Linked DNA regions of Homo sapiens. The protein of the gene in region 2 purifies or fractionates together with the protein of the main gene of each other region. This does not show direct contact. Each region holds a gene or a part of one and is shown on either strand. Other genes may lie near its edges. The genes, in order: MYO1E, DNM1, TBC1D2, ZFAND3, SH3BP4, RPE and LSM12.

What was found.
Region 1: the proteins of DNM1 (region 2) and MYO1E purify together in Homo sapiens (pull-down; one study listed by IntAct). This does not show direct contact.
Region 3: the proteins of DNM1 (region 2) and TBC1D2 fractionate together in Homo sapiens (co-fractionation; one large-scale study listed by BioGRID). This does not show direct contact.
Region 4: the proteins of DNM1 (region 2) and ZFAND3 fractionate together in Homo sapiens (co-fractionation; one large-scale study listed by BioGRID). This does not show direct contact.
Region 5: the proteins of DNM1 (region 2) and SH3BP4 purify together in Homo sapiens (affinity purification with western blotting; one study listed by BioGRID). This does not show direct contact.
Region 6: the proteins of DNM1 (region 2) and RPE fractionate together in Homo sapiens (co-fractionation; one large-scale study listed by BioGRID). This does not show direct contact.
Region 7: the proteins of DNM1 (region 2) and LSM12 fractionate together in Homo sapiens (co-fractionation; one large-scale study listed by BioGRID). This does not show direct contact.

The regions. Positions count from the first base shown.
Region 1 is NC_000015.10:59,205,141-59,209,206, reverse strand, and holds part of MYO1E (unconventional myosin-Ie), read left to right. Parts: intron 1-358; coding exon 359-526; intron 527-618; exon of another isoform or gene 619-1,120; coding exon of another isoform or gene 1,121-2,266; exon of another isoform or gene 2,267-2,364; intron 2,365-3,721; coding exon 3,722-3,807; intron 3,808-4,066. Other genes in the region: LDHAL6B (L-lactate dehydrogenase A-like 6B), read right to left, coding at 1,121-2,266. UniProt on the Homo sapiens protein: Actin-based motor molecule with ATPase activity. Unconventional myosins serve in intracellular movements. Their highly divergent tails bind to membranous compartments, which are then moved relative to actin filaments.
Region 2 is NC_000009.12:128,205,813-128,209,878, forward strand, and holds part of DNM1 (dynamin-1), read left to right. Parts: intron 1-4,066. UniProt on the Homo sapiens protein: Catalyzes the hydrolysis of GTP and utilizes this energy to mediate vesicle scission and participates in many forms of endocytosis, such as clathrin-mediated endocytosis or synaptic vesicle endocytosis as well as rapid endocytosis (RE).
Region 3 is NC_000009.12:98,220,691-98,224,756, forward strand, and holds part of TBC1D2 (TBC1 domain family member 2A), read right to left. Parts: intron 539-4,066; coding exon 143-538; intron 1-142. UniProt on the Homo sapiens protein: Acts as a GTPase-activating protein for RAB7A. Signal effector acting as a linker between RAC1 and RAB7A, leading to RAB7A inactivation and subsequent inhibition of cadherin degradation and reduced cell-cell adhesion.
Region 4 is NC_000006.12:38,109,611-38,113,676, forward strand, and holds part of ZFAND3 (AN1-type zinc finger protein 3), read left to right. Parts: intron 1-4,066.
Region 5 is NC_000002.12:235,038,662-235,042,727, forward strand, and holds part of SH3BP4 (SH3 domain-binding protein 4), read left to right. Parts: intron 1-2,226; coding exon 2,227-4,066. UniProt on the Homo sapiens protein: May function in transferrin receptor internalization at the plasma membrane through a cargo-specific control of clathrin-mediated endocytosis.
Region 6 is NC_000002.12:210,008,950-210,013,015, forward strand, and holds part of RPE (ribulose-phosphate 3-epimerase), read left to right. Parts: intron 1-707; coding exon 708-787; intron 788-4,066. UniProt on the Homo sapiens protein: Catalyzes the reversible epimerization of D-ribulose 5-phosphate to D-xylulose 5-phosphate.
Region 7 is NC_000017.11:44,056,183-44,060,248, forward strand, and holds part of LSM12 (protein LSM12), read right to left. Parts: intron 1-4,066. UniProt on the Homo sapiens protein: Nicotinic acid adenine dinucleotide phosphate (NAADP) binding protein. Confers NAADP sensitivity to the two pore channel complex (TPCs) by acting as TPC accessory protein necessary for NAADP-evoked Ca(2+) release.

The DNA.
Region 1 (4,066 bases), on a different chromosome or scaffold from region 2:
GAAAGAGAACATTAAGAAATAGATTAGGTCAAAGGAAAATGTTTTTACTTTTGGATTCTTAAGCAAGTCAATTTGGCATGACTATGAGTGAGCAGATAATGATCTGTGCATGACTCTTGGATAAAACTTCAGGGAGTTAAACAGCTTTTTGGAAAGTGGAGTTTCCTCCCTCTTTAGATCTAAGTGGTGACTCCCTATTTGGGACTATTAATTGCATTCTTGCCTGAAGGGGAATACTGACTTTCAAGATGGTATCTTAAGTCTGGGGAGCTGTTTCCTTGCCTAAGAAAGGACCTGATAAGCATTGTCTGTTTTGGAGAGGTCAGTGACTAGGGCCTTGCCTTCTTGCTCCCATCAGAACCCTCCTGGCATCATGAGCATCCTGGATGACGTGTGCGCCACGATGCATGCGGTGGGTGAGGGGGCAGATCAGACGCTGCTCCAGAAACTTCAGATGCAGATTGGGAGTCATGAGCACTTCAACAGTTGGAACCAAGGCTTCATCATTCATCATTATGCTGGGAAGGTATGGCCAATATCCATTTTAATGTCTATCTGTTTTAAGCCTTTGGGTTTGTGATCTGGTTTCTCATGAAGCAAATCATATGGCTCGCCGTATTTTATTGATTCAACAAACGGAATTTATTAACTATCAAAGGAAGCAAAACAAAAGATTGTATATACTACTGCATTTTTTTGTATGTACATTTATTTTTACATTGTAGAAGAAGCTACTACTTTTTTACAGCATATAAATGAACATAGGTATAAACCAGCAAGAATGAAAGAAATAGCATATATCTAATGAAAAGAGTCGGAATTTCTAGAACACAATAAATACCTACATCCTACTTTTTGGGAACCAAATGCCAACTACATATATATAACATGGCAAGTGCTGCTACATCAGAGGTACCAAAAATACTTAGGAATTGTAAATAAGTATCGTCCAGCACGTGGATGCTCAATAAAAGAGCTGGAGGACTAAATAAATAGGAAAATCACTCTACCTACTTTCCTGTTTCCATCTTTTAGGAATTCAAGTTTATTCAAAATTTCGTTATATAATCCTGTATCTATGATCTCTTCAATAATTTCGGAATGGTAGTTTTAGGCAACTTTAAAGCTTAAGCTTATTCTGAATTTCCCAGAGTGTTTTTGCACTTTTTTTCAGATGGGCCTCTTCTTCAGGGGTCAGCTTTATCTTTATAAGGTTGGTAATACCGTTCTCTCCCAGGATACAAGGAATACTGAGGAATACTTCTTCATCTATTCCATAGAGGCCCTTAATTATGGTGGAAACTGGATGTATTCTCCTAAGATTCTTCAAAATACTTTCTGTTAAATCGGCCACAGATAGGCCAATGGCCCAAGAAGTATAACCTTTCATTTTAATAATCTCATAGGCAGTTGCAGTCACTTCTTTGTGGACATTTTTCCATTGCTCAGGATCTTTATCAGTTCCTATATCAGAGTTCAGATCCTTCAAAGGGACACCAGCTATGTTCACTCCACTCCACACAGGAACACTTGAGTCTCCATGCTCTCCGAGGATCCATCCATGGCAGCTTTCAGAATGGATACCAAGCTTTTGTCCAATCAAGAAACGAAAACGAGCAGTATCCAGATTACAGCCGCTTCCAATAATACGGTTTTTGGGAAATGCACTCAACTTCCAAGCTACATAAGTTAAGATATCCACTGGATTGGAAACAATAATCAGTTTGCAGTGGGGGCTGTACTGGACAATACTGGAAATCATTAACTTGAAGATGGCCACATTTCGCTGGACTAAATTAAGGCGCGTTTCTCCCTTTTCTTGGCGTGCACCTGCTGTGATAATCACTAGGTTGGAGTTTGCTGTGACAAAGTAATCTTTGCTACAAACAATATTTGGCATTTTCGTGAAAGGGCTGCCATGTTGAAGATCCATCGTCTCACCCTTCAGTTTGTCTTCATCAAGATCCACAAGGGCAAGTTCATCACTCAAGCCTTTTAATAAGATGCTGATAGCGCAGGCCATGCCCACCGATCCAGTTCCTATGATGGAGACCTTACTGTGATGAACGGGCTTCTCGGAAGTGAAACGCTCAATAAGCTCACTCTTCACAGTCGCCATCTTGCTCACGGGGGTGAAGAGCCAGGTGCCGTTGAGCGGGATGCGCGTTGCTTGACGCGGACACAGGGCCATCCCCAGGCATAGGAAATTCGCTCCCACCGAGCTCACTCTCTGGCTGGCCCGCACAACAGGCACAGTCCAACTCATGGCTGCTCACTGAAGAAGTGGAGAGAGAGAATGGAAAAAAGCTGCTGATCCGAACGTTGAGACGCCAAGAGAGCCGTTGGCAGGACCTTCAGCACTCTACGGCAGGTGCGCGTGCCCCGCCCCCTGGCCCTCTACTGCGGCTGCGCGGGCCTTGCCAGAGTCTCCGACACGTGCTTTCCGTGGGTGCTCAGACTAAGGCAGTGAAGGGCTGCTTCTCTAGCAAGTGATTTCTGGAGTTAGTTTTGCTAAGAGTATTATCAATAGTTGACATGCTTAAGAGGCTAACCGAGATCCCTGGAATTACTAGTTTTTTATTTTTAATATGAATGCTGAGGAAACATGCTTCTGTTAACTACAGATGAAAATAAGGTTACGTTTTCTGAACCGTGACCCTGCCAGGAAGGATAGGGCTCTATGCTTTGCGTACTGGTGGCTGCCTGCACCATCTCCCAGTGTCCCAGAATTGGGCGCCTGCTTTCTGGTCTATGGCGCTGGAGGCCTATTTTGAAAGGATTCCACTGCCTTGGTGCCAGTCCTGGCCAGGACCCACCCTGGGACAGTCGGCTGGGGCTTCAGCAGGGTAGGGGCCGGCTGGGAGTCACTCCAGCACTAAATCTCAGCATACTACTGCATATTTTTGGAAAATGAATCACCCTGCTACATGTATTAGCTGCTGAATAAATGGATTTTCGTCTTGCCTCTTGCTGGAATCACAGACTGGCATTCCTTGTCTCCCCATGCCTACTGGTAGTATAAATCAAGGCCCAGAGTGCACTTTTGGTGTTCTTATAAAGCCCATCAGTATTGGGTGCCTACTGGATGCCAGGCTGTGTGGGGCTGCTGATGATAAAAAAGTTAAGTTGAGGTCGTGGTCTTGGGGACTTCCTAGTGCTATGGAAATCCCCTGGTCTCATCCATCATCCCAGCTGATCTCTTGTTAAACAGAGTATCTGAGCATGAGTTTCTGGCCAGATTGGTGCAACTTTGATACCACTTCTGGGAGAAACTGCAAAGCCTCAGATGACATGGCTCATTGCAGTGAATTACTGAGCATGAGGGGCTTCACTTTTGCTCTGGCTTAGCTAAAATTTAGGAAAAGTATTGAGTATGTCACTTAGACACCCCTATGGATCCACTGAAGAAGGGGTATGGGGACTTGAGAGCTGGAGTTCTGATTACGGATCAGCTGGGCCATCCAGGCAGCCAGATACTCATCAGCATCTGCAGGCCTTCCCCACTAAGTCAGCTAACAAGTAAGACGTGCACAGCCTTCCTGTGACAGTGCACAATGAAATCCCAAATGCAACATCTGGAAATCCACATGTTGTGGTGAGGGTAGCCATGACAGCTTTGGTTTTTTGTTTGGTGAAATTAGATTTTTTGTTCAATAAATGATTTTGTTCAATTAATTACATTTTGTTCAATGAAATTCGATTTCTTTCCATTCTTGGCCAGGTATCCTATGACATGGATGGCTTTTGTGAAAGGAACCGGGATGTGCTTTTTATGGATCTCATCGAGCTTATGCAGAGCAGCGAGCTGTAAGTATGTTTTGCCATAGCTGACAGGGGATATAGGTTTGATGAAATTTTCAATATGAAAACAAACTTATGAGCTGGGTGTGGTGGTGTGTTCCTATAGTCCCAGCTACTCAGGAGGCTAAGGCAGGAGGATCACTTGATCCTAGGAGTTTGAGGCTGCACTGAGCTGTGATCACTCCTGTCAATAGCCACTGCCCTCCAGCCAGGCAACATAGGAACACTGTGTCTCTAATAAAGAAAAAAACAAAAACAAAACAAA
Region 2 (4,066 bases):
ACAGCAGATTTCATCGAGTACTTGCTTGTTGAGTGGTGGAGCAAGGTTTGGACCGTGCCCCAGGAGGCCTGGGCCCTCTGGCTGCCCTCTCCACCCCAATGCCCTTGGCCGTTGTCCCCACAGGAGGATGTGCAGGGTGTCCAGATGCAGGCCCAGGGCAGGGGAGGGGGCTTAGGTTGATGTGAAGGAGTAGGCAGAAAAGCATTCATGATCCTCTGAAAGCTAGTGAGAAGGCCAGGGAAACTGAGGCTCAGTGGGTTCCACTGTCTCAGCCTGCCAGCTCCCTCAAGGGCTCCTGACCTCTCCAACAGGGCTCAGTCCCCAGACTGGTGAGCATAGTAACAGCCATTCTGTCTCCTGGGGCTTCCCAGGAGCCAATCCCCAACAGAAAATGCTTCACAGGAAAATGCATCAGGGCTGCCCCAGGCCCACCCGGGCTTCTGGGTGCTCAGGAGGATCCTGCTGTCAACTCTGCAATGGAGGTAGCCTTGCAGCTGCCTGGGATGCTGCTAGAACTTGTCTGGGTCTATACTATTTCTTCACCCCCTTCCCTTTTACAGAAGGGAAAACTGAGGCCAATTCATTCAGTCATTTAGCAAACATTTGTGGAGGGTGCACGATGTCTCAGCACTGGGGATTCTATGGTGGAAAAGACCAAGACTCTGCACTGCAGAGGGAGAAACTCAGAAGACAACTGGAAAATGTGGTGAACGTCAGGGAGGGGAGTGGGGCTGCTCTCCCCAGGGAGGTCAGAGGTCTCCAGGAGGAGGTGGCATCTGAGATGAGAACCAAGGGATGAGAAGCTGTGTAACTTGCCAGGGGCGGGAGAGTTCCAGGCCAAGGGAAAGGTGCAAAGGCCCCGGGGTAGCAAAGAATTTGGTGCCTTTGAAGAACAGAAAGGAGACCCTGTAGCTGGTATTCAGCTAGCAAGGGGGAGACAGGACCTGAGAGATAGGCAGGGGCTAGATCTACAAAGCCCTTAGGCCATGAGGAGTGAGGAGTTTGGGTTTATTTTCTCTCTTGTGGGAAGCTTTTTAGTAGTGGAGTGATGAGCTAATTCTAGCAAGGGTGTGACTTGGGGAGCGGGTGAGGGAAAAGGCAGGAGACTGGTGGGGAGGCTGCTGCAGTGGGCAGGGGGTAGTGGGGGGCCTGGACAAGGGCTTCAGCTGCAACCAGAAGGAGAATGGTGGGTGGGTTTCAGGATATATTTTAGAGGAAGTCCTGCTGGAGGATGAATGTGGAGGGTGAGGAAAGAGGAATCAATGATGACTTCTGGGACTTTGACCTGAGCTCCTGGGTGGGTGTTGGTGCCATTAACAGAGTCGGGAAGAGTAAGGAGGAGCAGACTGGGGGGATGGGGGAAGACCAGGGTTTGGTTCTGAACATATTGAGCCTGAGATGCCTGTTAGACTTCTAAGTGGAAGATGTCAGCTGGCAGTTTGGTGATGCAAGTTGAGAGCTCAGGGGGAAGACGGGCTGGAAGTAAAAATTTGGAAGTCGTTGGTGTAGAGATGGGATTTAAACCCGAGAGTAGATGAGCTCATCCTGGGGGTAAGTGTAGATGGGGGAGTGTTTGTGGACCCAGCACACACCAGCCTTTCATGAACAGATGCCTGGTGCCCTAGGCCAAAGGGGCCTCCTCGCTGTCCCTCCAGCTCCTCTTTGTCACCCCCGCCCCGCTACACCCCCCACCCCAGTGCTCCTCTAGGGCCAAGAGTGGGTTGTCCTAGGGCAGGCCAAGTCTGGTGGGAATGTGGCAGAGGGGCCGAGAGCATGGTGTGGAGTCAGACCTGCCGAGTATGAAGCTCAACTCTGCCACTTACAAGCAGAGAAACCCTGGGCATGTTCCCCAAACCCTGCCCAGCTGCTATTTCCTCATCTGTAAAATGGGGATAATAATAGCACATCCCTTGTGAGATTATGGTGAGTGTTGAAACAATCCCCAGGAAGCACTCGGGGCAGGGCCTGGCATGGAGGACGCGCTGCTTCTATCCCTGCCTGGGCGTAGACAGGCAAGCCCTCTGGGATGGCGTGGGCTGGGAGGTGCACCAGGATGGGGGCACGGGTTGGGGATCTTCTCCATCCAGGGTAGGGTAGGGGTCCTGAGGAGCGACCCTCTGCCCAGAGCCGAAGGAGCAGCCTGGGAGGAAGGGTTTTAGGTTTCCCCGTAACTCTGCCTACCCCCCACCCCCAGGCTTTCTGTCTCCCCCAATGCCCTTGTCCCTTCCTCCCCATTCTTTTTTTTCTTTTTTTTTTCTTTTTTTGAGATGGAGTCTCACTCTGTCACCCAGACTTGGAATGCAATGGCGCGATCTCAGCTCACTGCAACCTCCACCTCCCAAGTTCAAGTGATTCTCCTGCCCTAGCCTCCCAAGTAGCTGGGATTACAGGCATGTACCACCACGCCCGGCTAATTTTTGTATTTTTAATAGAGATGGAGTTTCATCATGTTGTCCAGGCTGGTCTCAACTCCTGACCTCCAGTGATCCACCCACCTCAGCCTCCTAAAGTGCTGGGATTACAAGTGTGAGCCATAGCACTCAGCTCTCTGCTCTGCATTCTATCCCAGCATGGACGTGATGCTGGTCTCTGGACTCTGAGAGCCCTTCTCTTTGTCAAACCTAGCCTTTCCCAGGGGAGACAGCCCCCTCCCCACTATTAAGCTCTGTCTCTTCCTCTGAACACACCAGGATGCATCATAGTGGTCCCATTTCTCAGATTTGGAGATGGAGGCCAAAGTCTATTAGGGGATAAATGAGACATCCTAGGCAGAGTATCGATGACCTGGATGGGGCAGAGGGAACTAATATTTCCTTGGCACTTGCTGTGTGCCAGGCCCTGAGGATACAGTTGTGAGTCAGCCAGACCCATCCTGCTTGGGGAGGCTTGCGGCTGATCGGGGCAGACAGACATGAAATCCACAAAGAGCACGTTTGTCGTGTATTTTGAAGGAGGCTGCTCCTGCGTTGCAAGGAGCCTGACATTGAGGGGAGGGGGGCTTTCTGGGCCATCAGAAGGCCTCCTGAGGAGGTAGCATTTAAGATTGGACCTGAGCAAGACTAGGACGTGGTCAAGCCAAGGTGTGGACTTCCGCAGGTGCAGGGACTGTCCTGAGCAAAGAGTTAGGGGGAAAAGAGCCCAACGGGTTTGAGAACCCGGATGAAGGATGAAGGGCAGTGTGGCTGAGTGAGGAGCAGAGGCCAGAGGTGAGACTAGGAGGGTTGGGGAGGCGGGGCTTGAGGGGCCTGTTAGGGGCCCTTTGACACCCCCCCACCCACCTGGAGAGCTGCCACACTCTGCTCCAGCCTCTGCATGCTCAGAGCACGCAGCTGCCACGTGCTAAGCACACACTGCCTGTGGGCCACATGTGGAGCACACCCCTGGGGCTGGAAACATGGAAATGCACCCATCCACAGCCAGAGGACATCCTCTCCAAACCCACACCCCACCGTGGCCCAGAGGAGCTGGGAGTGAAAGGTGACCCTGGCAGACAGCATCTGATCTCGGCGCCAGGAGAATTGAGTTTCCCAGGCCCTGGCTGGGTCAGAGGGTCGGACCCAGGGAAGGGGGTGCAGGTGGGAGAGTGGAGAGGGTGGGCAGGGCAGGAGTGGAGGAAGTGGGTCATGGACACAGTGCTGTCAGGCGTGGAGAAACGGACGCCCACATGCCATATGTCTATGTATTCCAGTTATAAATCAAGCTGAGGAATTGCTAAATGCAATACATTCTGCCCTCCCACCATAACAAACACACCTTCATCACAACCTGACCAGCTGGGTTTGAATTCAGAATTTCAGACTCCTTGGAGTTCCGTGGTGGATGTGGAGGCGTGGGGACAGGTGTCCCCTCTCCGCAGGCTGCCCCGTCATTTCCCTCTTTATCCCTCCAGGGTTCACTTGTGAACACCCCAGCCCTCATATCCCAGCTCCAGAAAGGACCCACCTTGGGCCTGGGCTGGTCCCCACTTGGGCCTGGGCGGTGGGCTTGGAACTGCTTGAGAGGGAATTCTGGGGCATCTGAGCGTAGCCTACGAGGGGAGCACAGGCTTCAGCTGGGCACCTCCCCT
Region 3 (4,066 bases), about 30 Mb from region 2:
ATGTGTTTCTAATGTGAATATTCTAGGATGAAGGGGTATCCCCACTCCACCTAGCAAACCCTTAGGGGTGGAGAGCGCACCTTCCCTGAGGGCTGGGACAGAGGACCGGCAGGACTGGCAGGCCCTGAGGGGAGGCCCCTACCTTCAGGTGCTCTATCTTCCCCTGCTGGCTCAGGAAGTCCCTGTTGGCAGCGTCGGGGCGCAAAGGAGACTGGTCAGGGGGGTGCGTGAAGTCCTGGGTGACCTTCTCAGAGAGCTTGCAGATGACCTGCTGCTTGGCGTGGTTCTTGTCCATAAGCAGCTGCACGTGCTGCTGTAGCTCCTGCACCTGCTGCTCCCGCAGGCTCGCTGTGTGCGCCAGGCTCTCCCGCTCCTGCTCCAGGGCCTCCACCCGCCGGCCCAGCTCCGCGATCTGCCGCACTTTGTGCCGCACCAGCTCCAGCCGGTCCTTGTCCTCAGCCGCCGCCAGGTATGCGCTGGACGCCCGCTTCTCCTGCTGGGCGGCCTCCAGTGCCTTGTGCAGGATCTTCACTAGCTCCTGGGCAGGGAGAGGGAAGAATCTTGTGAGCTCAGGGAGGGCCTGCTGGGCGCCACAGTGGGGTATATGTTATCAGTAGTTCTCCTAACAACCGTGAGAGGTGCCCAGCAGCATCCCTGCGGCATCTCATCCTGACACTCACTTTCTCCTTCTCTGTTCAAGTGACTGTTAGCTGGGCACATGGTTCCCCAGCTTAAAACTGCATCTCCCAGCCAAGCCATGGTGAGGTGTAGCCAAGTAACTATTCTGCCTAAATGGGAAATGAAAAGTGAGATGGGCAGCTTCTGGGTCCTACCTTTAAAACCACTAGATACACGCTCCTCTGGTCCAGTTCTCTTTGCTTCTGGCTGGGAAGTGGCAGGAACTAGAGTGGCCGCCTCAGACCCACAGCAGAAGGTACATGTTGAGAAAGGGCTGCCCCCCAGCTCAGAGTTGCTCACCTACCTCTGGGTTCTTTAATGTGAATGAGAAACCTCTCACTCGTTTTGGGCCACAGTGCTTTGAAACTTTTTTTTTTTGAGATAGCGTCTCCCTCTGTTACCCAGCCTGGAGTGCAGTGGCACAGACATGGCTCACTGTAGCCTCAATCTCCTGGGCTCAGCTGATCCTCCCACCTTAGCCTCTCAAGTAGCTGGGACCACAGGAACATGCCAACACACCAGGCTAATATTTGTATTTTTTTGTAGAGAAGGGGTTTTGCCATGTTGCCGGGCTGGTCTCAAACTCCTGGACTCAAATGATCTGCCCACCTTGGCCTTCCAAAGTGCTGGGATTACAGGTATGAGTCACCACACCCAGTGGAGATGTTTTTGTCACAGCAGCTGAACCCATACCCTGACATATACACATCCATTTCAGGGATGAACAAACTGAGGCCCAGCAGAGAGTAGAATGGAATTCAATCTCAATTGGCTAGATTCCAAAGCCTGTGCTCAGTAACTAAGAAAACCAGGGGTGGCAGCTATGTGGCATTACTCTTCCCTCTCATCCCTGTGGCAGACATCACTAATTAATCTCCCATACTTCTTCCTGCACAGCCTACCCTAGTTGAGGCCTCAGAATCATTCTCAATATAGCAGCCAGTCACTACCAATCAAGTTGAGTCAGGGTTAAAGAGGAAATACACTGGCAATCCCCATGTAAAGCCACACACAGAGGACCTCATTCAAGCCATTTGTGCCTAGTTACCTTCAGCCCACCAGCCGATGCCTGCAAAGCTGGTGGAAGGAACTCTAGAAAGTTCAGAAACAATAGAGCTTGATTTATTCCTCAGCAGGGGCAACTAATTCACACAGGAACTCAAGGTCTGCTCAGCTCCCTGTGCCTTTAAGCCTGTAATTTCCCCAGGGAGGGCCACGCCTGGACTCAGGCCTATCTGTCCCAAAGCAGGGATGTGAATTTGTTCTGGGCCAGGATCAGGACATCAGCAGCCAGGTCCACGTGGAACTAATACCAGGTAGGTATGACTTTCAGGCAACACTGCCCTGCTCTGTGCTTCTCATTTGGAAAAACATGGTTTCCTAGAGACATGTCAACTATACCACACCAAAGTATTAAAATGAGTGGATTGGCTGGATAGCCTTATTTGCTAAGAACAATTCTATATTGGAGGAAAACTGCCAAAAACCATGACTTTTTTGGAGAAGCTAATGACAAGACCACATTAGCCTGCATCTTCTGAAACCTTAGGACTAGTGACCATCCTTTCTCTGGTTCTCTCTTTTCCTTCCACATGCCCATCCATCCATCCAACCTTTACCAAGCACCACTCGGTGCCAGGCCAGGCCCTGAGCCAGGTGCCGTGGCCCAGAGAGGGAGTGGTGAGAGTTCCCACCTCCAAGGACTGCAAAGGCTGGTGGGAATGAACATGACCCACCACAGTGGAATGATCTACTGCAAGTCAGGGGAACAAGGGTGTTTGTGGGAAAGGCAATGACTTCTGTCTGGGGTGGAGGTTGTGGGGAATACCAGTCCAGAGCATTTAAAAGAAACTGTGAAGAATGAGAAGGGCCAGAGATGGTCGAGCAGCAGGTGGGAGATGAGGGTGGGGATGGCCCTCCAGATGTGGCCAAGCTACAGCCCCAGTAAAGACCTGGAGGAAGGAAAGAGCTACCATGGAGCTGTGGGAGCCCTGGGGTGTGGCAGGAAGTTGGGGTGAGGACAGCACAGTGATTGCAAACCAAAAGGGAATGTTTGGAACGTCCAGAATGAAGAAGTCAGCTTCTCAGGGCTCAGTGGAGAGAGATTAACATTCCTGTGGTTCCAGGAAAACTGGGGGCCTAGGCCATTTTCTGCTTCAGCTGAGATTTGGAGGTTACCTTGGATGACTGCCCAGGGAAATAACCAACAGACATCATTGTTCAGACTTGCCCTAGGAGCAGGACCAGTGGGTGTCTTTCCCTCAATTTGGGGAGTTAGTTGACTCTGAAGCTTATTTCATTACATCTAGCTGTCTCCTTCCCGCATTTGGCTCCCAGAATCTAAGACTGAGACACCAGCCCAGGAGGCTCTCCTCCCACCCCCAGAATTCTTGTACCAGAATAAAATAGGCTTAAAAGAACGGAACCAGGGCAGAGGGAGGGAGCCTCAGTAGGACTTGTAAGATGAGGAGTGAGAATGTCATGAATTCAAGAAACCTAAAGTCTGGATTATAAGCAATGTCTTAGGACCAATTCTTAAAAATAGGTTGGGCCGGGCGTGGTGGCTCACGCCTGTAATCCCAGCACTTTGGGAGGCCAAGGCGGTCGGATCACGAGGTCAGGAGATCGAGACCATCCTGGCTAACATGGTGAAACCCCGTCTCTACTAAAAATACAAAAAAATTAGCCAGGCGTGGTGGCGGGTGCCTGTAGTCCCAGCTACTCAGGAGGCTGAGGCAGAATGGTGTGAACCCGGGAGGCGGAGCTGGCAGTGAGCTGAGATCGCACCACTGCACTCTAGCCTGGGCGACAGAGCGAGACTCCATCTCAAAAAAAAAAAAAAGAAAAGAAAAGAAAAGAAAAATAGAGGGGTTGATGAAATTAAGCTTTTTGAAGTGTTTTTTTTTCTTTTCTTTTTTTTTTTTTTTTTTTTGAGACAGGGTCTCACTCTGTTGCCCAGGCTGGAGTGCAGTGGCGCAATCACGGCCCACCGCAGCCTCAACCTCCTGGGCTCAAGAGATTCTCTTGCCTCAGTCTCCCTTGTAGCTGGGACTACAGGCATGCACCACATTGCCCAGCTAATTATTTTATTTTCTGTAGAGACAGGGTCTCCCTATGTTGTTCGGGGTGGTCTTGAACTCTTGGGCTCAAGAGATCCTCCCACCTTGGCCTCCCAAAGTGTTGGGGTTATAGGTGTGAGCCACCATGCCCGGCCCAAGTGGTACTTTTAATATTTCTCAATCGAGTTGTTTGGTTCATCTCAGATTTTGATACGTGGTCATAAGTTGTCACTTTATTTAAATTTTTAAAAGCCAATAAATCATCTTTAAAAAATAATCCTTTATCTTTTTAGAGCATTGCTACTTTCATCAGTGGTGGGCCCTACAGG
Region 4 (4,066 bases), on a different chromosome or scaffold from region 2:
AATCAGCTTCCAAGTTCCTGTGCACCAGAAATGGGAAGGGAAGATGGGCTGTGAGGAAGTGAAAAACCTAATCTCAGTCTTTAAAACATACCTTTGGGGTTTTGGGTACTCATCTCCTGAAGGGCATATGATAATTTTATTATGACTCCTGACTTCTGTGTGTTCTGCGGCTCTTTAAACTGTCTTCTAGTCAAAAATGTCTCCGCAGAAGCAGCTTCTGCGTTGCTATCCGGAGGACCAAAATCTGATTGGTAGATGATAAGAGTTGGCCCCAGGAAGATTTCTGATGCCGTATGTTTTTTGAGCATACTAAGGACAAAGACCTCAAAGCTCAGGTGCACTCCCAAGATGGTCAGCCTTCCTGATCAGCCATTCCAGATTTCCCAATCTTGTGTTCCCAGGAGGAGAGGGAGACTAATGCTTAGGAATTATACTGCCTGGCAGTTTGTGAACAACTGACTTTTTAAATGTTTATGATCTAGGACATGGCATCCTAGGAGTATTTCAAGCTAGATTCGTCTCCATATCAAATGAAGATGATGGCATTCTCCACAAAATTTTAATAATCAGCCTCTTGAACCTTGTTCTCTGTCCACACAATGGCTTTTCAACAGATGTGTTACTCCAAAATTATTTTAGGGTCATTGGGAACATTAAGAAAGGAAGGGAAAATTTCAGTCAAATGAGGTGGGAATTTTTTTTTAATGGGTAGCAAGGTGTTTTCTCAAAGTCTTTCATGGCACACAGAGTAAAATGTCAGGAGAAGATGAATCTAATCCCAGCATATACCCCGAAAGCAAAGCATGAGGAGAAACACAGAAAGTACCTGTAAAGCAGGTTTTTTTCAAGTCTCTTTTATCAGTTTTTCCAGTGAGAGTGTGGTATTTTTCGTGGACAAAGGTTTTACCAGCTAAAAGCTCCTTTTAAGTGGTCGAAGGAGAAACAGCAGTGATGTGTGAGGGTTCGTTAATTATTGCTCTTACTGATGTTTGCACAGGCTGTTGGGATCATAAATGTCAATCTGTCAAGAGACTGATAGGTTCTAAAAAAACTGATTGAGTACCTCAAGAGCTGTCATAGAGCCTGAGATTAAACAGATTCATCTTTCGTAGAAGTAAGGGACGGTGTGGGTGAAGGGAATAGCAGAAGGCTTTCTTCTCTTTGTTGCCGCATTGCTTCTCCCACTCTCCTATTCTGTATTGTGAGTGTTGGCTTGTACGGAGGCCTAAAAGCCTGTCTGCCTGAGATGTCAGGAAGCCACAGCCATGGTTAGTGCACGGGGTGTGTGCAGGCTGCCAGCTGCAGGGTGACAGGAGATTAAGAGAGATTGAGATTCAGCTTTGACAGGCATGACACAATTTATTTGGAAATTTTCAGGCGGGAACATGAGTAATAAAGACAAGAATGACAGTAAGGAACAAATGTGAATTTCTGCCAGAGACAAAACAGAATTTTAAAAGAAGTAGCTCTGTTTGTTGTCTCCAGTTAAGCTTTCCAGTTAAACTGTGTTCTTAAATTGAAAGTCTTAACACTACTTTCTGAGACTGGCTAGGAAAGTACAATTAGAAGAATTCCTCTCTTCAGAAGATTCCATGTCTTTAAAATTACTGTACAACCAGCCCACCATATCCATGGGTTCCACATCTGTGGATTCAACCAACCATAGACTGAAAATATTTGGGAAAAAATGGATGATTGTGTCGTACTGAACATGTAGTTTTTTTGTCATTATTCCCTAAATAATACAGTATAACAACTATTTACATAGTGTTTATATTGTATTAGGGATTATAAGTAATCTAGAGAAGATTAAAGTACAGTTGATGCTTGAACAACATGGGTTTCAACTGTGCAGGTCCACTATGCACAGATTTCCTTCTGCCTCTGCCATCCCAGAAACTGCAAGACCAGCCCCCCACTCCTCCTTCGTCTCCTCCTCAGCTAGTCAGCGTGAAGACAACAACGATGAAGACTTCGATGATCCACTTTCACTTAAGGAAGAGAAATTGTGTTTTCTCTTCCATATGGTTTTCTTAATTTTTTTTTCCTGTAGCTTACTTTATTGTAAAAATACAGTATGTAATACATAAAACATGCAAAATATGTGTTAATTGTCTGTGTGTTATCAGTGAGACTTCTGGTCAGCAGGAGGCTATTACTAGCTAAATTTTGAGGGAGTCAGAAGTTATATGAAAATTTTCAGCTGTAACAGGGGTCAGCGCCCCAAACCCCATGTTGTTCAAGGGTCAGCTGTATACGGGAGGATGTATGTAGCTTATATGCAAATACTTTGCCATTTTATATAAGGGACTTGAGCATCTATGGAATTTGGTATCCTTGGGGGGTCCTGGAACCAATCTCCCTTGGATACCGAGAGACGGACTGTGCAGTACTTGTCTCTCTGTCGAAAATTAAGCGCAGTTACTTTCAAACCAAGAAAGCTAAATAGGCAAAATCCTTCTTCTTAAGATTTTCCTTCCTTATTTAATCACATTATGATTCTTGATCAGACTTTCCTTTGACTAGATCTGATGTGATATCTTTCTCATTCTATTAAACATTGGCAGAGAAAGCAGGGGTCTGGTGAGTACCAAGAGTTGTGAACGTGGAATGGGGGAGCGGCAGCTCTGTGTGGGTATATCTACTACACTAGATTATGTTCTCAAGTAAAAGCATACTGGAAAAAAAGAATCTGCTTTGTTGGCCCTTTATGAAGGACCTTAATTAGAAGTCACTGTTAACTCCTGGGGTGGGAATGGTTTCCAGCTTGGCACGGGAGTTCCTCCTGCTACTAATGAGCATGCTCCTTGCAAGGACTCGCTGCTTCTGACAGTTAAAGCTGCATTGTAAGAGTTATTTCTTGTCACCTCTCTCTCCACATTTAACTGTTACTGCCCAAGTTCAGAGTATGTAAGTAGACTGTTAGGTGTTTTCAGGAAATTGGCAATGCTTCACGGTAACAGGGAATGATATTTGTGAGTAAAAGTAAATCATTACAGGTTAATTTATTCAAATATGGGTAGTAGATGGTTGCTTTAATGTCAACCATGTTTGGATTTTTTTTTCCTGGTAGTCTTTTTCTAATTGACATAAAACTTACAAATGAATAGTTGAATTATTTAATTCATTATCATGTCGTTAGAACCCCTGCCCTGGACATCTGTTTCTCTTATTTAAGCAACTCGCCCTGTGGCACAAAGGTTTCATTAACTAATTAGCAGAGGAAATGTAAATTTCTTATGCAAGTGAGGATGATTCTATAGATTACTATTTATTTCATTAGCTTCTCATTAAAACACTAAGTTGACTTGTGAGAAAATGCCGGAGAATGGTTTGCTTCTCGAAGAAATTACACATACACAGTCACCTTCTTGGGCAATAGCTTGTGGAGGATAGTGAGCAGTTTTGGAAGCTTATTTACCCTCGCTCTTGGTGGCAGGGAGCATTAGAGAGCATCTAACAGATCTTCATCTAGGGAAGGGTAAGTGGGCATATTCCAGAGCTTCAAAGGTGTGGATCTCTTGCTATCTGGAATAGTTCTTTGATTCTAAAACATAACACATTCTGTTAGACATTTCTTCTGCCTTGCTTTAGAATCATCTAGCATTGCTTCCTGGGGCCCAGACTTCCTGTACATGGATGCCTTTGGTCATAGACTTGTACGGATGCTGGGACATTGATTGTCAGAGGATCGAGTAGGGCTTAATGGTGTTCTTTTAGGATGATCAGTATATCATACCAGAAGCTGTGGCAGCATCAGAAACCTCCTTTAGGATTCATTGTTCAAGAATATTCCATGCCTACTGCCTACCAGAACAAATAACTCAGTGGTCTTTATATTAATGTGGAATAGATCAAGGAAAATCTCAGCATGGGATCATGTAGACATTCCTTAGTGTTGCTATTGAATGCCCATTGGTCAGGTAAGATGGGGAATTAAGAGAAAAAGAGGTCAAGACTGCACAGGCCTCCTAACTTTGCAGGGCAGGGGTTGGGGGGTCCCATCAAAGTGGGTTGTTTGGTGATGACTAATGATTGTGATTATGTAAATATGAATTCTATTTCT
Region 5 (4,066 bases), on a different chromosome or scaffold from region 2:
AGGACAGCAAGGCCTGGGCATTGCAGATTCCCTGTGTCCTTGGAGATAGGATGCTCTGTCCCCCACATATAGGGAGGGCCCCTCCCACTTGAGGGTCTATGACCTGCTTCAGGGGGCAGGCAGGGAGTCCTGCCTGCACCTGCGGTTTCTCAAATTCCTCCAGCTTAAAATATGTGTGGTGCTATATTTTGGGGTAGCATGTTCTGAACCTCATCAGGTACATGATGTAGTGGTTGGTGGTAAGAGCTATGGAAAAAGATAACATTGGGGCCAGGAGATGTCTATTTCACATAACATCCTGTGTGTCCTCAAGTTGGGTCAAGCAATATTATGACAAGTGCCTTATCTACGTCTTTGCATTTTGTCCTCTCCAAAGCTCATTGAGGAAATACACTTTTTGTCCACCATGAGTGGAGTCTTAGGCTCTGGAGATCACACAGTTTCTAAGGGCTCCACTCGAGTCTGGGTTTAGTGATCCCAGAGCCGGGTTCTCTGAGACACCCAGATAGACGGGCCTGCTGTAATTTCACAGGAGGAGGTAGGTGGGGCTTCAAGGCCCAGGGATGCTCCCAGCTAAGCGCATCTCTGTAACCCAGTTAATGTAAATGAATAGAAACTGTCTACCTGATTTCCTAACACTTTCCCAAGGAAGTGTGATTATTTCCTTTCAAAGGAAAAGGAAACTGGCAGGTGATTTTCTGGGGTCGGGGGGGCAATTTGATAGAATACGATGACTGTGGACTTCATCACATTAGAAAAGATGTAGGTTTAGTTTAACTAAAAACGGATTCCTTTCTTTGGTCATTTGCTTTGGCAACTTAAAAAAAAAAAAGAAAGAAAGAAAGAAAGAAACGTTTCCTTTCTTTCTTTCAATTGTTTATTACGGGAAGCCAGAATGTCAGCAGACTCCGTAAGTGAGGCAGTTTGGGAGGTGGGGGAGGGGAGTCCTGGGGAGAAGTATATGTGCTTATTTTCTTCAGAAAGAGTGTTCTTCATCTTCTGAATATATCTTCTCATTTAATCATATCCATTATTTTTCAAAACACACCACTTGTTTGGCTGACTTATTTTTGCTGTTTCATTTGCCGTCTACATTGGTAACATACAGAGTTCAATGGCAGGAGCCATGAATTAACTTGATTCACTTTTTGAAGGGTTGGAATTTTTCAGACTGCTTCAACACTTGTTCAATGATAGTATGAGCTATGACTAGGCATAATCTCTCATTTTCAAGGTATGTAGACAGTCTGTTTTCATGTTGTGATTTTGAATGATAATTTAAAAGAGGTTGGGCCAGGCGCAGTGGCTCACACCAGTAATCCCATCATTTTGGGAGGCTGAGGCGGGAGGATCACTTGAGGTCAGGAGTTTGAGACCAGCCTGGTCAACATGATGAAACCCCATTTCTACTAAAAATACAAAAATTAGCCAGGCATGGTGGCACACACCTGTAATCTCAGCTACTTTGGAGGCTGAGGCAGGAGAATCACTTGAATCTGAGCGGCTGAGGTTGCAGTGAGCTGAGATCATGTCAATACATGCCAGCCTGGGTGGCGGAGTGAGACACTGTCTCATAAATAAATAAATAAATAAGTAAAATAAGAATAAAAGAGGTTGGAAGGAACTGACTTCAGAATTCTTACTTTATCTGAGGAAACAGTTTGGTGAGGAACAGGTTGAGTTTGGAAATTTAAGAAGCAGGTTGAGGGAAGCTTTCCATCCAGAGGCAGAGCTTGGAATCAGCTCATACATGTCATTGCGGGAGTTTTTGGAATCTGTTCATTTCCAGTCCCTGATCACATGCAGTGGTCACCTAACTCACCGTGTCACCGTGTTTTCTAAGTTAATCACATTCAGTTTCTCTTTGTATCTAGTAGCAGTTCTTTTAAGAAGAATTTTAACGTTGCCCAAAATGAGATGTTTAGGGCGTAGGGCATGTTAAATATTCCATTGCACTGATTTGCCTTTCTGTGAGTGATGGAGAGGCTCCTCTGTGGTCTTTCTGCCGGACATAGGCTGTCGATTTTGAAGGTGACCAAGTAGCAGGAACCAGTTCGTTGGCCAGGTAAATTACCTACTGAATTTCACTTTGGTTTGTTTCTGTTGGTGACTTGCCTGGGTTATTGTGCACCTGTCTGTTTACCACCGTCCTCTCTCCTTTGGGAAGCTCTCCGGACACCCCGCCGGCCTTGCCCTCACCATCTGTTTTCTTTGTGTTTTGCACAGTGCCTTCTCCCAGTGCCTTGCTCGTAGACAACCCCACACCTTTCGGAAATGCAAAGGAAGTGATTGCGATCAAGGACTATTGCCCCACCAACTTCACCACACTGAAGTTCTCCAAGGGCGACCATCTCTACGTCTTGGACACATCTGGCGGTGAGTGGTGGTACGCACACAACACCACCGAAATGGGCTACATCCCCTCCTCCTATGTGCAGCCCTTGAACTACCGGAACTCAACACTGAGTGACAGCGGTATGATTGATAATCTTCCAGACAGCCCAGACGAGGTAGCCAAGGAGCTGGAGCTGCTCGGGGGATGGACAGATGACAAAAAAGTACCAGGCAGAATGTACAGTAATAACCCTTTCTGGAATGGGGTCCAGACCAATCCATTTCTGAATGGGAACGTGCCCGTCATGCCCAGCCTGGATGAGCTGAATCCCAAAAGTACTGTGGATTTGCTCCTTTTTGACGCAGGTACATCCTCCTTCACCGAATCCAGCTCAGCCACCACGAATAGCACTGGCAACATCTTCGATGAGCTTCCAGTCACAAACGGACTCCACGCAGAGCCGCCGGTCAGGCGGGACAACCCCTTCTTCAGAAGCAAGCGCTCCTACAGTCTCTCGGAACTCTCCGTCCTCCAAGCCAAGTCCGATGCTCCCACATCGTCGAGTTTCTTCACCGGCTTGAAATCACCTGCCCCCGAGCAATTTCAGAGCCGGGAGGATTTTCGAACTGCCTGGCTAAACCACAGGAAGCTGGCCCGGTCTTGCCACGACCTGGACTTGCTTGGCCAAAGCCCTGGTTGGGGCCAGACCCAAGCCGTGGAGACAAACATCGTGTGCAAGCTGGATAGCTCCGGGGGTGCTGTCCAGCTTCCTGACACCAGCATCAGCATCCACGTGCCCGAGGGCCACGTCGCCCCTGGGGAGACCCAGCAGATCTCCATGAAAGCCCTGCTGGACCCCCCGCTGGAGCTCAACAGTGACAGGTCCTGCAGCATCAGCCCTGTGCTGGAGGTCAAGCTGAGCAACCTGGAGGTGAAAACCTCTATCATCTTGGAGATGAAAGTGTCAGCCGAGATAAAAAATGACCTTTTTAGCAAAAGCACAGTGGGCCTCCAGTGCCTGAGGAGCGACTCGAAGGAAGGGCCATATGTCTCCGTCCCGCTCAACTGCAGCTGTGGGGACACGGTCCAGGCACAGCTGCACAACCTGGAGCCCTGTATGTACGTGGCTGTCGTGGCCCATGGCCCAAGCATCCTCTACCCTTCCACCGTGTGGGACTTCATCAATAAAAAAGTCACAGTGGGTCTCTACGGCCCTAAACACATCCACCCATCCTTCAAGACGGTAGTGACCATTTTTGGGCATGACTGTGCCCCAAAGACGCTCCTGGTCAGCGAGGTCACACGCCAGGCACCCAACCCTGCCCCGGTGGCCCTGCAGCTGTGGGGGAAGCACCAGTTCGTTTTGTCCAGGCCCCAGGATCTCAAGGTCTGTATGTTTTCCAATATGACGAATTACGAGGTCAAAGCCAGCGAGCAGGCCAAAGTGGTGCGAGGATTCCAGCTGAAGCTGGGCAAGGTGAGCCGCCTGATCTTCCCCATCACCTCCCAGAACCCCAACGAGCTCTCTGACTTCACGCTGCGGGTTCAGGTGAAGGACGACCAGGAGGCCATCCTCACCCAGTTTTGTGTCCAGACTCCTCAGCCACCCCCTAAAAGTGCCATCAAGCCTTCCGGGCAAAGGAGGTTTCTCAAGAAGAACGAAGTCGGGAAAATCATCCTGTCCCCGTTTGCCACCACTACAAAGTACCCGACTTTCCAGGACCGCCCGGT
Region 6 (4,066 bases), on a different chromosome or scaffold from region 2:
CCTCCCAAAGTATTGGGGTTACAGGCGTGAGCCACTGTGCCTGGCTGGTAGACTTAATTTGAATCCACTTCCACAAATTATTAACTGAGTTACTTAAGGATTTTATTTATCTTGTGCTCTTCAAAGGGGATAATAATAGCATCTACTTTGTAAGGCTGTCGTGAAGATGAAATGAAGTAAATTACGATGCTTGGCATGTAGTAAACCCTCGGTGAAAGGTGGTCGTTACTAATAAACACATCATGTTTCTTTATTAGTCATCTTTAAGAAAGTTTAAAGAAACTGTCATTTAGTGCCTTGTGATAGAAGTGATTAGAAGTAGCCACAGGCCTCCTGAGATAGACTAGGATTCAGGAGATCAATATTAGAGTCCAGAACTTACTAACTAGTGTGTGACTTGGGCAAGTCATAAAGCCTGAGGGTTTCTGATTTTATCATCTCTCCATTTCTACTTGTCATGGGTCGTGAATTACGGAGTCAAATCATTATGAAAATATATGTGACGTGATTTGTTGAAATGTCAAGGAGACATTGCCTAGTAAAACCAAAATGACCCATTATTTTTAGTATTATTTAATACTGATGATTAAGTATTAAATTGAAAAACATTGCAGACAATCCCCTCAACCTGTGTCAGAATTCATATTGAGAGAGATACAGAAACTGAATTGAAAACATTTTCAGAGTAGATTTTGTTTGTCTTGTAGGCATTTTGTTCCCAACATCACCTTTGGTCACCCTGTGGTAGAAAGCCTTCGAAAGCAGCTAGGCCAGGACCCTTTCTTTGGTAAGTGGGTGTTACGCCATCTGAAGCTGGATGTGTTGCTCAAGTAAAGGAAAACTGGATGGTTGATTTTAACTTCCAAGTTCATCTGGCACCCTTTCCCCAACTTTCCTATCCTGGGTCTTCATTGGCCTGACTCCAGTAACAAGCCAAACTTCTTCCTGCCTCTGGGCCTTGGCTAATCTGCATGGAAAGGTAGTAGCTTGGCTGGCTGCCTCATCTTTGGGCCTCAAGTCATTTGTCATTTCCTCAGAGAGGCCTTTTTGAGCGTCCTCTCCCAAATTAACCTTTATCCAATTATCTTATCACCTGTTGATTTTCCTCTGAGAACTTCCTTTGATCTGCGATTACTTTTATTAGACTATAAACTCTCTGAGGGCGGGGATTGAATCCAGTTTGTTTACTGTGGTTTTCCTAAAGCTAAGCATAGACATGATCAGGGCTCAGTGTAATTGTTAAGTGAATTTATGAATCAGTTGATTTATGGTCCAGAAGCCATTTATTTTGTGCAAATTGGAGCTTTCTACAAGTGGTGCCTAAATATTCACTCCAATGTCCTAGTACAATGTAAATTAAGATTTTTAAGATTACTTAGTGGCCTACAAGTGATTTATGTTAAGTTAGCAATGTCTCACCTGCCAGATCTCTTAAACATGAGAAATTTTACACATTTTTATAAATAGTGTTATTTATTTTTTTCTTTTTTTTAAAATAGAGACTGAGTTTCGCCATGTTTCCCGGGCTAGTCTCAAACTCCTGGGCTCAAGCAATCCACCTGCCTTGGCCTCCCAAAGTGCTAGGATTACAGGCTTGAGCCACCAGCCTAGCCATAAATAGTTTTTTTAACGTAGCTTACAATTTAGTAGAACTTAGATTCTTTTTAATCAGCATATTGCTGACCAGTTTTATGAAGGACTCTGTGCTGTTCACTATGGTAGTCATAAGCCACATGTAGCTATTAAAATTAAATAAACTTAAGTTCATGACCAGAATGGCCAACATGGTGAAACCCTGTCTCTACTAAAAATTCAAAAATTAATCAGGCGTGGTGGCAAACACCTATAATCCCAGCTACTCAGGAGGCTGAGGCATGAGAATCACTTGAACCTGGGAGGTGGAGATTGTAGTGAGCTGAGGTCATTCCACTGCACTCCAGCCTGAGTGACAGTGTGACACTCCATGTCAAAAAAAAAAAATTTTTTTTAAATTAAATAACATAAACTTAAAAATTCGGTTTCTTATTCACGTTAATCACATTGCAAGTCTTCAGTAGTCACATATTGTACAGTGCAGCTATGGGACATTTCCAATATCACAGAAAATTCTGTTGAATATAGTCTCCAGCCTCTGTGTAGGATCTATCTACTTTGAGTTCACCAAAGAAAATGTACATTATTACCTCATTTATGTGGCATGAGGAAACAATGTTCCACCAATATATTCACCATTTTGAAATTTCCATATAATGGGATATAGTCCTCTGATTATCTAAACTTTCTTTTAAGCCATGATTAGCTTATATAGCAGATACCGTGACTTTTCCTATGAATTACGGTTGTTCTCATGACCATGAGAGGTAGATGAAATAAATAGCATTGTTTTCTCCCACTGTACAACCAATGGCCAGAATCCTCGCTTCTGGCTTGCTTGTGTGAATTTTTTTAATGCTTGCTTTTTTTCCCCTTTTCGCTCCCTTTTATTTGGGCTCCCATTGTCACACCATACTATTGTCTATATCCCTTCCTGTCAGTGCCTTTCCTTTTAGCAATCCTGTGTTGCTGCCACCACACACAATCTGCTTTTTCTTCTTGTTTTTAATTTGTTGATAAACTTGCTAATTAATCTTTCTAGAATTTGGTCTAAAAGATAAATGAACTCCATTCACTTTAATGTTTGGGTTTTGTGACCCTTGTTTTTTGGTTTTTCGCTTTTTGTTGTTGTTGTTGTTGTTGCTTTAAGAGACAGACTCCGTCTATTACCCAGGCAAGAGTACAGTGGTACAGTCATAGCTCACTGCATCCTTGAACTCCTGGGCTCAAGCAATCCTCCCGCCACAGCTATAGCTAAGACTACAGGTGTGTGCCACCACAACCGGCTATTTTTTTTTTTTTTTTTTTTTTTTACTTTTTGTAGAGATGGGATCTCCCTGTATTGCCCAGGCTAATCTTGAATGCTTGGGCTCAAGCCATCCTCCTGCCTTGGCTTCCCAAAGTGTTGTGATAGTAGGTGTAAGTCACTGAGCCCGACTACCTTTGTTTTTTATATTGAGAAACATTTGTTTAATTCTTGGATTTTGGTTGTTGGATAATTGATACATGAATGTATTCTAGGACCTAGATTACATGTTGTGTTGTATATGTAACGCTAACATTCTTAACTGTTCAGTTTTCATATTGAGTAGAAATAAATGTCTAAGAAATACAGTGATGGGAAAAGTCTGTTCCTGTTATTGTCTAAATCAGTGATCCTCAAGTATGTTGTATAAGGACCCACACAAATCCTTAAGACCCTTTCGGGTCATCCATGAGAGTATATCAAAACTATTTTCATAATCCTAAGAAATTATTTGCCATTATTTCTACTGATGGTACAAAAACATTGATGAGTTAGTTTGCTGGTGCCTTAACCAACTCAAGGCAGGGACTGTATCAGGAGTTATTCTTCATCATCATGCATTTGCAATAAATATCCTTGATGAAGCAGTAGAAATTAATAAATCTTGGTCCCTGAATACATGCCTTTTTAATATTTTGTGTGGCAAAGTAGGAAGTGCATATAAAGTGCTTGTGCTGCATTGCTGCATACTGGAACATAATGGTTTTCTCAAGGAAAACCACTTGCACCATAGAGGTGTGATCTGAACTAGCTGCTTTCCTCCAGAACACTATGTTTGTTTGAAAGAACAACTGACAGATCAACTATGGTTTTTCAGACCTGGCTATTTTAATGACATTTAAAAAATATTAACTAAATGAGGCTGTCTCTTCAAGGAAAGATACCTTGTCAGTTTTTGTTCCCAAAATTAGAATTTTAAAAAACTTGTGTATCTTACCACTCTGGGTTTGATAGCGTCCCAACAGTTAACAAGCTTTTCTGATGAGATCTGTAGTTATTTTACCAAATGTGATTTTGGGGTACTATGGAATGAAATCTGTCACTATTTGTAAGATGTGTGTAACTCAGTAAATCAGTACTTAAAAGACCCATTCAAAATACAAGACAAACAATGGGTTTTAATGTAACAAAGAATGAAAAGCTCATTGATAGGGTTTACAGAGTGCA
Region 7 (4,066 bases), on a different chromosome or scaffold from region 2:
GAATTGGGAGGCTGAGGTAGGAGAATTGCTTGAAACCGGGAGGCGGAGGTTGTGGTGAGCCGAGATCGCGCCATTGCACTCCAGCCTGGGGAACAAGAGTAAAACTCTGTCTCAAAAAAAAAAAAAAAAAGTGAACTCTGGCTGGGCACAGTAGCTCACTCCTGTAAATCCACCACTTTGGGAGGCTGAGGTGGGAGGATCACTTGAGGCCAGGAGTTTGAGACCAGCGTTGGCAGTATAGTAAGACCATGTCTCTACTCCCCAACTGACAAAAAATTGTTTTTTTTTAATTAGCTGGACGTGGTGGCACACACCTGTAGTCCCAGCTACTCAGGAGGGTAAGGCAGAAGGACTGCTTGAGATTGGGAGGCATGATGGCGTGTGCCTGTGGTCCCAGCTACTCAGGAGGGTGAGGCAGAAGAACTGCTTGAACCCAGGAGGCAGAGGTTGCAGTGAGCTGAGATTGCACCACTGCACTCCAGCCTTGGTGACAAAGGAAAACTCCTCTCCAAAAAAAGAAAAAAAAAAAATACAGCCTGGTACAGTGGCTCACACCTGTAATCCCAGCACTTTGGGAGGCCGAGGCAAATCACCTGAGGTCGGGAGTTCAAGAACAGTCTGACCAACATGGAGAAACCCTCTCTACTAATAATACAAAATTAGCCAGGTGGGGTGGCACATGCCTGTAATCCCAGCTACTTGGGAGGCTGAGGCAGGAGAATCACTTGAACCCGGGAGGCAGAGGTTGTGGTAAGCTGTAATCGTGCCATTGCACTCCAGCTTGGGCAGCAAGAGTGAAACTCTGTCTCAAAAACATAAAAAAATAAGACGGACGTGGTGGGGCGCACCTGTACTCCCAGCTACTCGGGAGGCTGAGACAGGAGAACTGCTTTAGCACAGGAGGCGGAGGTTGCAGTGAGCTGAGATAGAGCCATGGCACTCCAGCCTGGGCAACAGAGTAAGACTTTTTTTTTCTTTTTTTTTTGAGACGGAGTCTCGCTCTGTCTCCCAGGCTGGAGTGCAGTGGCGCGATCTCAGCTCACTGCAAGCTCCGCCTCCTGGGTTCACACCATTCTCCTGCCTCAGCCTCCCAAGTAGCTGGGACTACAGGCACATGCCACCACGCCCAGCTAATTTTTGCGTTTTTAGTAGAGACGGGGTTTCACCATGTTAGCCAGGATGGTCTTGATCTCCTGACCTCGTGATCCGCCCGCCTCGGCCTCTCAAAGTGCTAGGACTACAGGCGTGAGCCACCGTGCCTGGGTGAGACTTCATCTTAAAAAAATAAATAATAATGTGCCAGGTACAGTGGCTCACGCCTGTAATCCCAGCACTTTGGGAGGCGGAGGTGGGCGGATCATGAGGTCAGGAGTTCAAGACCACCCTGGCCAAGATGGTGAAACCCTGTCTCTACCAAAAATACAAAAATTAGCCAGCTGTGGTGGCAGATGCCTGGAATCCCAGCTACTCCGGAGGCTGAGGTAGAGAACTGCTTGAACCTGGGAGGCAGAGGTTGCAGTGAGCTGAGACAGCACTACTGCATTATAGCCTGGGAGACAGACGGAGACTCTGTCTCAAAAAAAAAACAAAGTAATAATAATAATAATAATACATAAAGTCAAAGTTTCCAAGAACCTACCAAAGACGTTAAGTGAGAGCCTAGTGTAATGGCATAAATCTTCTATGGGCCCTTTGTCACAATGCCCTCCTTCCCCTGCCTTATCTCATCCCATAATTCAATGAGCATTAGTTAGCTACAATAAAAAAATCTGGGCCGGGCACAGTGGCTCACGCCTGTAATCCCAGCACTTTGGGAGGCTGAGATGGGGGGATCATGAGGTCAGGAGATTGAGACCATCCTAGCTAACACGGGGAAACCCTGTCTCTACTAAAAATACAAAAAAATTAGCTGGGCGTGGTGGTGGGCGCCTGTAGTCCCAGCTACTCGGGAGGCTGAGGCAGGAGAATGGCGTGAACCCAGGAGGCGGAGCTTGCAGTGAGCCGAGATCGCGCCACTGCACTCCAGCCTGGGCGACTGAGCAAGACTCCGTCTCAAAAAAAAAATAATAAATAATAATAATAATAATAATAATTTGGGAGACATTAACTAACATCTGCCAAGTCTAATGACTTTAAAGACTGATCTACTTGGTTCATTCCTAAGTCTTTTCTACTAGACTACCCTGCCCCTGACCACAGAACATAGATGTTTTTCTTTACTTAGAAACGTTACCTAGGGGCTGGGCCAGTGGCTCATACCTGTAATTCGAATACTTTGGGAAGCCGAGGAAGGAGGATTGCTTGAGCCCAGGAGTTACAGACCATCCTGGGCCACACAGTAAGACCCTGTCTCTACAAAAAAAAACTAGGCTGGGCGCGGTGGCTCACGCCTGTAAACCCAGCACTTTGGGAGGCCAAGGCGGGTGGATCATGAGGTCAGGAGTTCGAGATCAGCCTGGTCAACATGGTGAAACCCCATCTCTACTAAAGATACAAAAAATTAGCCAGGCATGGTGGCGCACGCCTGTAATCCCAGCTACTTAGGAGGCTGAGGCAGGAGAATTGCTTGAACCTAGGAGGCAGAGGTTGCAGTGAGCCGAGATCACGGCACCACCGCACTCCAGCCTGGGCAACAGGGCAAGACTCCATCTCAAAAAAGAAAGAAAAATTAGCCAGGTGTGGTGGTTTGTGCCGGTAGTCCCAGCTACTTGGGAGGCGAGGTGGAAAGATCACTTGAGCGAACCCTGGAGGTCGAGGCTGCGGTGAGCTGTGACTGCATCATTTGCACTCCAGCCTGGGCACAGTGCGAGACTAACTAAAAAGAAACAAAACAACCACCCAGGTGTGGTGATGGGAGATTGTAGTCCCAGCTACTCAGGAAGCTTGGGCGGATCACTTGAGGCTATGAGCCAGGAGTTCGAAGCTGCAGTGAGTTATGATCATGCCACTGCACTCTAGCCTGGTCAACAGAATGAGACTATATCTCTAAAAAACAGAACACACACACACACATACACACACACACGAAACATAACTTAGCATTGTACATTATTCAGGGTACTTCATGTTGCCAAACTATGAGTTCCTTGGGCTAAACACAAAGTAATAGAAAAACAGGGGACTTGGCCAGGTGCAGTGGCTCACGCCTATAATCCTAACACTTTAGGAGGCCGACGCAGGTGGATTATCTGAGGTCAGGAGTTCAAGGCCAGCCTGGTCAACACGGCAAAACCCCATCTCTACTAAAAATAGAAAAATTAGCCGGGCATGGTGGCAGCAGGCGCCTGTAATCCCAGCTACTCAGGAGGCTGAGACAGGAGAATCGCTTGAACCGAGATCACACCGGGCAATGGACTGAGACCCTGTCTCAAAAAAAAGAATTCCCCCTACTGCAACCCTACTGTCCTCTCTCAAGCTTCCTCTTACATGCTACTGCTGGAGATAGAAATAAGACTTCTTAGCCTGAAGTGAACTATCATTCGAAAGCAAAACAGGCCAATTTCCAAGAAGTTGCTAGTTTATACCTTCCCTAGTTGAGCTATTATTAAGTATTTCCTGTATAAGCCCTTCTCTTCCATTTCCTGCTAGGTCAGAGTCAACAAATATCCGGTTTTTATCAACAGGTTTAATTAAGCAGATCACTTACTATGTCAGCAAGATGGGCCAATATGTGATGATACCTTTGACTAAAGTTAGAGTAGGCCGGGTGTGGTGGCTCAAGCCTGTAATCCCAGCACTTTGGGAGGCCGAGGCGGGCGGATCACAAGGTCAGGAGATCGAGACCATCCTGGCCAACATGGTGAAACCCCGTCTCTACTAAAAATACAAAAAAATTAGCCGGACATGGTGGCGGGCGCCTGTAGTCCCAGCTACTCGGGAGGCTGAGGCAGGAGAATGGCATGAACCCGGGAGGTGGAGCTTGCAGTGAGCCGAGATGGCGCCACTGCACTCCAGCCTGGGCGACAGAGCAAGACTTCGTCTCAAAAAATAAATAAATAAAATAAAATAAATAGAGTAGGCTAGTGCTTCTCCAGACTGCAAGCAACTGAAACTTCAACAGTTTTCT